Linked DNA regions of Homo sapiens. The protein of the gene in region 1 interacts with the protein of each later gene in a biochemical or structural test. Each region holds a gene or a part of one and is shown on either strand. Other genes may lie near its edges.

Region 1 (4,158 bases):
AAAAATTGGACAATTTTTGCATTCTAAATTTATCCACTTAAATCAGGTCAAACTTGCAGATTTCCCCATCAATATGACATAAAAAATATCCTCTAGGTCTCTAAGAAAACCTCAAAGGTTAATTTAATTTTGACTCTTGTCAGATCTAGATTTAAGGTAGGCAGTTAGTACATATTTTGTAACACTTTTCCACACCTTCATGATACAGAGAAGCCTCAATTTCTTTTATTTCCCTTTCCTGCACTGAAATACACAGCCATCCATGGCTTTATTCATGTGGCAAATGGACTCAAGTGCATTATACACAGCTGTATTTTTATCAGGGACTTCTACTGAAAGTTGCAAGAGCAAACCACTAAGTCACAAGAGATCCATAAATAATACCGCATCTAGACTGCACATTTGGGGCAGAAAGGTGTTGTTGTATATTTAGCAACTTCTCTGCAAGAGGAAAAAACTTGGAGTTTTTCCCTAGGCTTCTGTATTTTGCAACACTAGGAAGGTTTTTAATAATAATTTCTTTAAAGCAGTCTTTTATCCTTCAATATATATTTTTTTGAGACAGAGTCTCGTTCTGTCGCCCAGGCTGGAGTGTAGTGGCGCGATCTCAGCTCACCGCAACCTCCGCCTCCCGGGTTCAAGCCATTCTCCCGCCTCAGCCTCCCAAGAAGCTGGGATTACCGGCACCCGCCATCACGCCCGGCTAATATTTTGTATTTTTACTAGAGACAGGGGTTTCACCATGTTGACCAGGCTGGTCTCAAACTCCTGACCTCAGGTGATCCACCCGCCTGGCCTCCCAAAGTGCCAGGATTACAGGCGTGAGCCACCACCCCCAGCCTATCCTTCAATTATTTTTTTATCTGCTCTTTGGGATATACATAAGTCAAAGGTTATGTAATGGGATTTTTGCTCCGGGACACAGGACAAACAATCTGCAAGTTGCATGTGATTGTTGTACAATGGGTTCCGATTATACCATGACTCTCCATAGTGGCCTAAAAATATTACTAACAAAAGAACTGAGGCCACCCACTTTATAGTAAGACTTATCCTCCCTACTCGGACACACACTGTTATGGATCAGTTCTAACCATCCAATCACTTCAAAAGAAAGGAGAAAGGTCACTAACTCCCTGGGGCGATTCTACAACACACCTCTTCCACAAGGTTACTCAACGGACCCAACAGCACCTCAGTCATTACCATTCAGGAACCGAGGGACCTGAAACGTAAAAGACTAGCACCAGGTGTTCAGCAAATCTACAAATATGCCTATCCACGGACTCAGTGGGACAATTAAAATTTAATCATAATCCAAGCAAGATAAAAACCCTAGCCAAGTAACGTTAACTAACTCTAAATGAACTAGATTAAGATTTTTCTCTTCACTGGTTAACTATTAAACTCGACACTGTTACACTAGAGGCTCTCCCTTACAGCTCAAAGAGGAGCAAGGTTGGATTTTCAGATTCTCTGTGGCTCAAGCTCTGGTAACATGCTTTTAATGGAACGGACTTTGACGGACTTCGATTTTTGCTTAACATTTTTACGGCGAAAAAGTTAGGTCAGGTAGCCCAAAGACCTGACCCTCTAACTGTGGGCCTAGTTCTCCGTGTAATCCCCAATTGCTTAGCACTTTCTCAGCTAAGAAAAATATAACAAGCACCGTGGGAGACTGTTCCACAGGTAGCTCACAAGTAGTTCGCATGCAAAATCACTCACTGCCATCCACTATCACCAAGGAACCAAGTTAGGCAGGAACCTTCCTCCTGCAAAGAGTAGGGCCACGAGAGGCGGCCTAACCCCTCAGAAAGGTGGGTAGAGAATGAAAGGAGTTCCATCAAATGGCACTTTGAGGCAAGCGAGAACAAGGACTCGGACCCTGCGGTGCAGGGCGGGGTGCTAGATCAGGGGCGCAGCCGGCAGGTTGGAGCCGGGCTCGGCTGCCAGCTCCTCACCCTGTTCCTCGGCGGCCTTGTCACCCGGCACCTCGGATCCCGGCGTCTCGTCCCCGCTCCGCTCCTCGGGTTCGTCTTCCTCCCTCTTGCCGAGGCCCTGCTCTTCGCCACCATTTACCCCGCCTGACCCGGCCGTGGCCTCCGCCGGCTTCTCGGAAGCATCTGGCTCGGCCGCGGCCTCCATGGCTGCCGCCTCCGGGGGCTCCGGCGGCGGCTGCGCGGCCTGACCCAAGGCTTGAGCAGGGGGTGGCTCCTCGTCCTCGTCCTCAAGCAGCGCCTCCTCGTCCTCCTCCTCCTCCTCTTCGTCCTCCTCCTCGTCCCCGCCCGGGCCGCCGCCCGACGCGGCCACAGGCCGAGGCTCCGCCTTGCAGGCCCCGCCGGGCCCGGCCCCGCCGCCGCCGGCCTCGTCCTCGAGCATCTCGGCGTCCAGCGCCTCCTGCAGCCGCTGCGCCAGATCCACCTTGAGGCCGCGCGAGTCCAGGCCCCGCCGCTGCAGCTCCGACCGCAGCTCGGTCACTTTCAGCCGCTTCACCTCCATCGCCGCCGCCGCCTCCTCCGCCTCCCGCCGCCTCCTCCCCTGCGAACCGTCGACCGAGTCCGACCGCGCAGGCGCCGCCGCCGCCGCCCGCCTCCGCCTCACGCGCCAGCACTGAGCCCGCGCGAGCGAGCGCACGCACGCAGGAGCGGAGGCCGCGCACGGTCCCGCTGCGCAGTGTTTGCTTCTCCTTCGTCTCCCCTCCCCCTTTCGGCTCACGGAGCCCAAAACAACGCAGCAGGGAGCTGTTTCCCCTCCAGGCCCTTGGTTCCCCAGCCGCGGGCAGGCGCGCGCGGAGGACGACGGAGTTCCTCCCGCTTCCTCCCGCCCTCTGGCGCCCCCGGGCCAATCGCCGCCGGTGCTTTTATCGCGCAGCCGCAGTGGAGTCCAAGACGGGCAAGGCTGGCTGCAGCTCAAGTGCCTCGTAGCACGGAAGCGTGTGCGCGCCGGTCTTTCAGTACTTCCAGCCGGGGAGTTCTGCGCAGCCGCCCGGAGCTCCCCGATGCCATGCCCCTCCCACCACCCTTACTTCCGTCTGACTTCCATTTGCTGTGGCGTTTTAGGGGTCGCTAGCCTCTTTTCCCTACTGTCTGTGCTTGCAGCAGTAACGACAAAAAAAAAGTCATTAGAGAATGTGTTGCAACATGTAAGCCTAGTAGCAATTGTTTTTCTGGCTAGGAAGCAAAAGGGCTCCCCAGAACGAAGAAATACTGTAATCCGGGCCCTCCTTTTTCCTCAACGCCTCAACTTCTACCCAGCAACAGAGGCCCTTGAACCCGCCCTTTTTCTCTTATTGGACAACTTGAATCGTCATTTGCCGTTCCGATTGGTCATCCGTGATCGTCCGGATTTTTCCAATTGGCGAAGCTGCCAGGGGAATTTTTTTTTTTTTTTTTTCCCAGGTTGGTCCGCTGAGGAGGCGGGGTCGTTTCTGCGGGATTATTTTTCCGGAGCCTCTTCTGATTGGGTGGTGTGGCGCAATGCGCGCGACCCTCAAGATACCAAACTGTACGCATCTCTGACCCTTTCCTCTCCTTGCTCCTGCTGGTAAACCGAAGCCCAGGAGACTTCCAGGTTTGGGCATCTGCAGAGGGCGAGGAACTGGTCACGGCGCCGGGTGGGCTTGCAGCTGTGACGCTTATGTGGACACCTCAGTGTCGCTGGTGGTTCACCTCGGCTTCCCAGTTTATTTATTGACGTCAACAAATAAATGTTGAATAAGGAAGAAGAGTTAGAATTGCTTGAAGCCCTCTGGAGTTTTAGCACTAGTCCCGCCCACTCCCTTCTACTTCCAGGTCGGGGGGGGGCGGGTCCAATAGAAAGGCGGAAGCCAGTGTCCCAGGCGTTCTCACGCCCGCAACAATTCCTGAGTAGGGCCTTGCTTGAGTTCTTCGGAAAGTCTCATCCACCCCCACATCGCCTCTTTAGGAAGTCACTTAATGTTGGGCTTCATTATTCCCACATCCCTTTCCTTACTACTTGCCTGCACTTCTTGAGAAAAAGACTGCAGAAAGGAGAGGTGGGGCTTTCAGTAGAAACAAGCAAACCGCAGGTCCCTGTGGGGGGACTCTCCAGGAAGAAGGGTAATTTCCTGCCTCCTTAAATTGGCTGCTACTGTCAGTTATTTTGCTCCCAACCCCAGAGCTTCACTTGCTCCTTCAC
Region 2 (3,500 bases), on another chromosome or scaffold:
GCCCCAGCTACTCGGGAGGCTGAGGCAGAAGAATCACTTGAACTCGGGAGGCAGAGGTTGTGGTGAGCCGAGATTGCACCACTGCACTTCAGCCTGGCAACAGAGTGAGACTCCATCTCAAAAAAAAAAAAAAAAAAAAAAGAAGAGAAAAGAAGATAAAAGAAAAGAAAAGGTAGGTTGGGGCAGTAACCCAGGGATGGGTGACTCACAGTGGGAAGGGAAGGAGGGAAGGGTGGTGAGGAAGTGCTGGGAAGGTGGATGCAGCAGGACAACACACATGTGTAGGAGTCTCTGCAGAAAGGGTGCGGAATGCTGTCTAATTTAACCAGTAAACCCTGAACACCACTGTCTCCTCTATCAGGGACTCTATAATGAAACGGCCACCATGCAGAGAAGAGACAGATTCTGGTCTAAGTAGAGTTGTTACCTAGGAGCCTGGCTTGCTTCATGGTCAGCACAATAACGCTGACCAGAGTTCGGTTCCCTCGGATGTGGGATTAGACAAAGGGTATGGAAATGAAGATCATGGCACAGCAAACCAAGAGTGGAGGAGACAGGGATTTGGGTCTGTATCCCCAAGGACCTTCAAAGAAACAGTCAACAATCACCTTTCTGAAAGTAGTCAGGTACCCACTGACCACAGGGATATCGTCAGATTCCCAGTGACCTCCCTCTGGAGCTCGTTCAGCTCTGAAAGTTAGTGATGCAAAAGCTCTTCCCCCTCAGCCATCACGACGTTCATTCTCCAGTTGCAGGTTCACAGCTTTTATCTCCACAGGAGCAGTCCTTTAAGGTTGATCGCTTAGCAATGGATGACCCGAGGTGTATAACTAGTTCTTATCTCCAAGTTCAAGTCCCTGAATAGGGCCTACAGTAAATAGTCCTCTGGCTTGTTCAGTCTGCTTTAAATTCTTTACAGGTCAGATACCAATATTTGTATTGGTTCTCATAATCACAGTAGCAGTGGTCAAAACAGGTTATTTCAGGTACAAACTGAGTCGCGAAAACATACTTGACTAGTAGTGGAGCTGTGGAAGTGTGCTCTCTCCCAGGTCACGCTCAAATTATGGGCCCATGGAAGACCACCATCAGAGCGGCATGGGAGGTGTCTGAGTTTGCCACCCTTGCCTTCCCTGGGTTGGGCAGAGAGGGAGTCCCAACCAACATCCTCACAGTCACCCTCTTCTCCATCCACCTGGATGGGCCATACCTTCCAAATCCACCATATCCTAAAATGTGAAAACAAAGCAGCTCCAGGACCCACTGTCTTAACCAGGTAGCATCAGTCAGCTGGCTTGTCTGACAGAGAGATTGTGCCAATGAATTTGGCCAGTGTTGTGATCTTTTAACACAGTTTATAATACTAGCTCACAACCCCTGGCTTTGCAACTCAGTCAGAGGCACCTATGAGATGTCTTAACATAAACAAACAAATACAAAATTAAAAAGTAAAAAAATTTTTAAAACCCTAGCCAAATGTTTTGGAAATAGTTTTTATTTTTTTAGTTTATATGGAAATATTTTTTAAATGCTCACAGAATTACAAAATCTCTAAAGCTTGAGTCAAACATGAATTTCTATTTTCCACTCGCAATACACGTGGTGGATGTCTTTAGGACCAATCTTGCAGACTCTAGGCACTGGGTCTTGCCCATGTTTCAATGGCCTGTGAAATCTTTTACATGACAGAGATGACTTACTACCTCTTAGTACCCCTTAGCTGCTAAGCCTTTCCATCATGCTTCCCAGGAGCAAGACAGTAAACTTTTTCTCTGACGTTAGAGAAGAGAAAATTGCCAGCCTGAAGTCACTAGGCAGTAACCAGGGCAGTGTCAGTATTTGAACAGCCTGAGAAGCTTCCTCATTCATTCTCTTTAGCTCCCTGGGCCCCCAGTCTTTCTCATTAGAAAGAAAGAGTAGTTGCCAAGCCTAGATCTTGAACCAGTTCGAACTGAGACTTGTGTATTCCGGATATGTGATAGAGTTTAACATGAATTCTGGAAGCATGTATGAATATGGAGAAACCATCCCACCACCCTGAACACAATGTCATCAGCTGTGAGGCTGGTACAATGATACCTAGCTTATCGGGCTGATGTAAGTCCCAGGGAGAGGACAAATGCTAAAGGCAAGCTATACCCTTCTGGGAAATGCCCTCTCTCCCTGCTCATTATTCGTCTGGCAAACATCTAATTCCCCTTTGCCATGTGGCCATTCCTCTGGAAAGCATCTTTATGCCTTTCATGGGGGATTGAGTTCCTCCCCACCCCTGCTCCTACGCCCTGTATTGCTAGAAGTGGTTCCTCTACCATAAAATCTATCACATTAGGGAAAACATTTATGTGTACATATGTGTCTCTCTGGCTCTAGGTCACTCTACTGAAACATCTAGAACTGGAGGCAAAACATTTCGGTTTGTTCACCATCATACCATCCGTGGCTGGCACAGAGGAGGCACTCAGCAAATGAACAAACCAAGCTGAATGAAGAAGTAAACTTTCTGAAGACAGGAAGCTTACTGAAGCCTGGTTCATCTATATATTCCCAGAGTCTAACACCACGCTTGGCACTAATGGGCACTTGATAGATGTTTATTTTTGCATGAATGGCATGTAAATTTATTACCTAATTAAATCATTTGGAGGACAGGCAGTAAGATTCAGATGTAAATACTACTGGTTGCATGCTTCTGCTCTGCAAGACTGGCTTCTTGTGACATACTGATAATCGGTCACTGTGAATCTGGGGAGTGTCCTTGTTTTGTGCTCTTCCCCCGAGGAGGGACAGATCCTTCTGTTAGTTCAAAAGTCGGCCTATTCCTAACTGCCAGGCATCCAGGATGCCTTCTTTGCCCATCTGTCTTTCTGAAAAGCTAGTTAAAGGGCTAATCTGCTCTTAATTCCTTTAGTGTGGTCTTTGAATGAAATGGTTTGAGTGGATTTAGTCTCCAAATCAACAGAGGCAGAATAAGACTGTCTGGGACTGGCTTCAGCTCCGGGATCAGCTCTCTTTGTATCACGTGACTTAGGGCACGGATCTCAGCAGGACATCTGGGATGTCTCTCAATGAAGAGATCACACAGGGGTGTTTTCGTACCTGGCCTAGTTGTAATTCTTTGCGTAGCTTCAGGATATACTGAAGTATTTGGGAAAATAAAAGCTGCACCCCCTGCAGACAAAAGGAAAGACAAACATGTGAAGGTCTTTTGTTGTGGTTGTCGATCTCAACATCAGCGCCAAATCTACTTTTCCCTATGACAACAAAGGGAAGAGACCTCCTCAAACCTGCCTTAACAGAGCTCCGGAGAAACAGACAGGTGCACCTGTCAGATTCTCAAGATGGAAGTGAAACTTGGAGCCTTGGTGTACTCCTGTGCCCCGTTTGCTATAAAGCGTTTTGTGTTTTGATTTTATAACTTCTTGATGAAGCCCTATCTGTGTCCCCCTCAATCCCACTTCCCACTGGGCAATCTCGTTTTATTAAAAAATTATATGGTACAT
Region 3 (3,500 bases), on another chromosome or scaffold:
AGATTTTAGAATATGGATTCCTTCCTATTAAGCCTTAGGTCTTTTGGTATTTTGGTTATGTGGTAATTTTGCCAGAGATGAATTTCAACTAATGAAAGAGGGATACTTTCTGGTGACTTTACACTTATGGTGTAATGTCTTCAAGTCAGTTAACTTCACATATCTAACACAGTGCTGCTGTCCAATAGACCTTTTTGCAGTGATGAAAATGTTCTCTGTGTTGCCCATTATAGTAGCCATTAGTCACGTGTAGCTCTTGAGCACTTGAAAAAGGGCAAATGCAACTGTGGAACTGAGTTTTTAACTTAATGTAATTTAAATTTAAATAGCTGCAGGTGACTGGTAACTGCCATGCTGGGCAGCATAGAGCTGACATTTATGTTTTTCCTTTTTAGGTACATGGTGATCCCTGTTTTTGGTTTTACTGTCTCTTGAATTTAAGTCCATCTGAATGTTGGTTTTAGCAATGACGTGAGAACTTCGGAGCTTGCTTCCTCATGGACGACTACTCAGCTGATAAGGAAACACAGCTAAACTTGACTATTTATAACTGTATTTATACAGTAATAAGCCTATCTTTGGATGGCAGAGAGTATATTTATAGTGAAATATTTTGGGGAAAAGTTACTGAGAAGTTGTCTTTTTGAACAGGAATATATTAAATATAGCATGATGCTATAATTTTATTCTGTCCTTCATATGTAACATGCTTTAGTACATGGATGATTCTTTTTTTATATGAGTTATTTGTAGCTGCCTAATATTTCTTGAAAGAGTGAGCATTTCTTTTGTACCCTCGGAAAGTTTCATGCTAGTGCGAAACGCATTGCTATTGTTCTTTCAGAGCCGGGGCCATCCAGTCTTGGCAGCATGCTCATGCCTGTCCAGGAGACTGCCTGGGAAGAGCTCATCCGCACTGGCCAGATGACACCTTTTGGTACCCAGATCCCTCAGAAACAGGAGAAAAAGCCCAGAAAAATCATGCTTAATGAAGCATCAGGCTTCGAAAAGTATTTGGCAGATCAAGCAAAACTGTCTTTTGAAAGGAAGAAGCAAGGTTGTAATAAAAGAGCAGCTAGAAAAGCTCCAGCCCCAGTCACGCCTCCAGCCCCAGTGCAAAATAAAAACAAACCAAACAAGAAAGCCAGAGTTCTGTCCAAAAAAGAGGAGCGTTTGAAAAAGCACATCAAGAAACTCCAGAAGAGGGCTTTGCAGTTCCAGGGGAAAGTGGGATTGCCAAAGGCAAGGAGACCTTGGGAGTCAGACATGAGGCCAGAGGCAGAGGGAGACTCTGAGGGTGAAGAGTCTGAGTATTTCCCCACAGAGGAGGAGGAAGAGGAGGAAGATGACGAGGTGGAGGGGGCAGAGGCGGACCTGTCTGGAGATGGTACTGACTATGAGCTGAAGCCTCTGCCCAAGGGCGGGAAACGGCAGAAGAAAGTGCCAGTGCAGGAGATTGATGATGACTTTTTCCCAAGTTCTGGGGAAGAAGCTGAAGCTGCTTCTGTAGGAGAAGGAGGAGGAGGAGGTCGGAAAGTGGGAAGATACCGAGATGATGGAGATGAAGATTATTATAAGCAGCGGTTAAGGTCGGTCTGTGGGGATTATAAATACATTGTACTGTTTGCTTTATCTTAGGTGACAGGTTTATTAATATGTAAGCATTCTAGATCCAGCTTAATATATTAGACCCCCCCGATTATACAGAGGTTGGATTTCTGCAGCCTTAACCTGCTAGAAGCAGTGGGGCCCCTGAGTCCTTAATGATGCTGGCCCCAAATGCATGTACTTCTAGGTCTTTAGTTGGATTTGGAGGCAAGTCTAAGATGAAAAACTTAAGGGAAGGCTGGGGCAAGAGGCATACAGAGGGCTGAGTGTGAGCTGTGTCGCCTTTATACCGACAGTCACCCTAGAATGAGTATCAGGAAAAAGAAAAGGGTGAATTAATGCATACTGGATAGGGGTTTCTGTTTTCCCTTTTGAAGCAGGAAAGTAATTTTAGAGAACTTTTCTTCAAAAAAGAGCTGAAACTTAAGCTTTGGCATAGAAAGAATAAGCTTGCTTTTGTAAATCCTTCCTTTGTCTTGAGAAAATAGTCATCTGCATAATTATAAGCCACCATCATGCAAAAAGTGTACTTTGTATGCACAGCATACCTTTCTTTTCACTGTTGTTTTTTATGTTAGAGACTGACTTTGGCTTTTAGCTCCATGACATTGTCATTGTATAAAGCAAGCACCATAAAAGGGAAGGTGAACATGTGAAACATGAAGTCTGAATTGCATATTGCCACACGTTTTCTGAGAGCCAGGAAAAATAATCTGTATTGCAGGCCTCCCCATGGTGGCCCACTGAACACTGTGCTACTGCCGCGCATTTCAAGTCTCCTTGACTTAGAGCTCACTTAGCTCTAAGGAAGTCAAAGGGAAAAAGGAACCTTATTACTTTTAAAATACTTGATAGTGGGATGGCTTTTTCCCAATCCTCAACAGTTTTTTCTTATTTCTCAAGGTGAAGAGACCTAGTTTGTTGTATTTATTGGCCTTTGTGAGTGAAGGTTGACCTGGTGTTTTTTCTTGTTACTTAGAACTGCTCATTAACCCCCGTCCAGACACTACAGACATTCCATAACCTTTCCGAAATAGATGTGTCAATTCTTTTAAACAGTAATTTGAGGACCTGTGACTTAAATCCTGTTCTTTAGAGTTGCGGCACTCACATTCTAGTAGCACCTTATGTAGTAATGCACAGATGAGGGCTGGCTTATATTTGTCATCCCTCAGCACAGCTTTCGTTTCTGTGCACGTTTATTACCTGTGAAGTTGTTTGAGGAATGTTGCCCAGTACTCTTGAACAGTGAGCGGTGTCAGACTTTTTCTTAACTACTGCAAGGAATTAATAAAAGTGTTAATCTCAACATATTGATTATAAATGGAGCAATATATATTTTTCCAATTAAATTGGGTCAATATTAAATATGTTTAAAATATATCAGTATTTTGATCAAGAGCAATTTATTTTGATTGAATTTTAAATGTGGGTTTAGTTAATTTGATGGCAATAAGTTTTTCTTAATAATGTTAAGATTGTAAAACAATTTATTATTTCCAGAGCCAATATTTTGCTAAAGCTACAGTGAAATCTCAAATGAATTTCAGAAATATCAATAACTCTTAATTGCCACCAAAATACGATAGCTCTTAACATTTTATAGCTACAGTTATTAAGGCTGTTAAACTGCAGATATCCACATTGAAATATTTGTTATTACATCTCCTTTGGTGCTGTTTGGTTTGGGGGATGAAAGAAAATAAAATGCTCAGGATTGAGAAGCATATTAGAACTGCCAGTCTCTCTATATTTTGTTACTCATTGCTGATCTTTGTAGACTAATTGAAATGGTAATGCTATTCCCTTGAGAAACAGAAAGACCTTTAGGGTTGCTTGTCTTAGCAGTGGTTTGACGATGGATGATTAGAATAAAGTCATAGAGTTTACAA

The links.
Region 2: the proteins of HNRNPUL2 (region 1) and ERG form a complex in vitro, tested with the Homo sapiens proteins (one large-scale study listed by BioGRID).
Region 3: the proteins of HNRNPUL2 (region 1) and ERCC6 form a complex in vitro, tested with the Homo sapiens proteins (one large-scale study listed by BioGRID).

What each region holds. Positions count from the first base shown.
Region 1 is NC_000011.10:62,724,658-62,728,815, forward strand, and holds the start of HNRNPUL2 (heterogeneous nuclear ribonucleoprotein U-like protein 2), read right to left. Parts: upstream 2,801-4,158; 5' UTR 2,500-2,800; coding exon 1,962-2,499; intron 1-1,961. Other genes in the region: TTC9C (tetratricopeptide repeat protein 9C), read left to right, coding at 3,477-3,504.
Region 2 is NC_000021.9:38,397,478-38,400,977, forward strand, and holds part of ERG (transcriptional regulator ERG), read right to left. Parts: intron 3,169-3,500; coding exon 3,097-3,168; coding exon of another isoform or gene 2,885-3,096; exon of another isoform or gene 2,595-2,884; intron 1-2,594. UniProt on the Homo sapiens protein: Transcriptional regulator. May participate in transcriptional regulation through the recruitment of SETDB1 histone methyltransferase and subsequent modification of local chromatin structure.
Region 3 is NC_000010.11:49,522,122-49,525,621, reverse strand, and holds part of ERCC6 (DNA excision repair protein ERCC-6), read left to right. Parts: intron 1-844; coding exon 845-1,589; intron 1,590-3,500. UniProt on the Homo sapiens protein: Involved in repair of DNA damage following UV irradiation, acting either in the absence of ERCC6 or synergistically with ERCC6. Involved in the regulation of gene expression.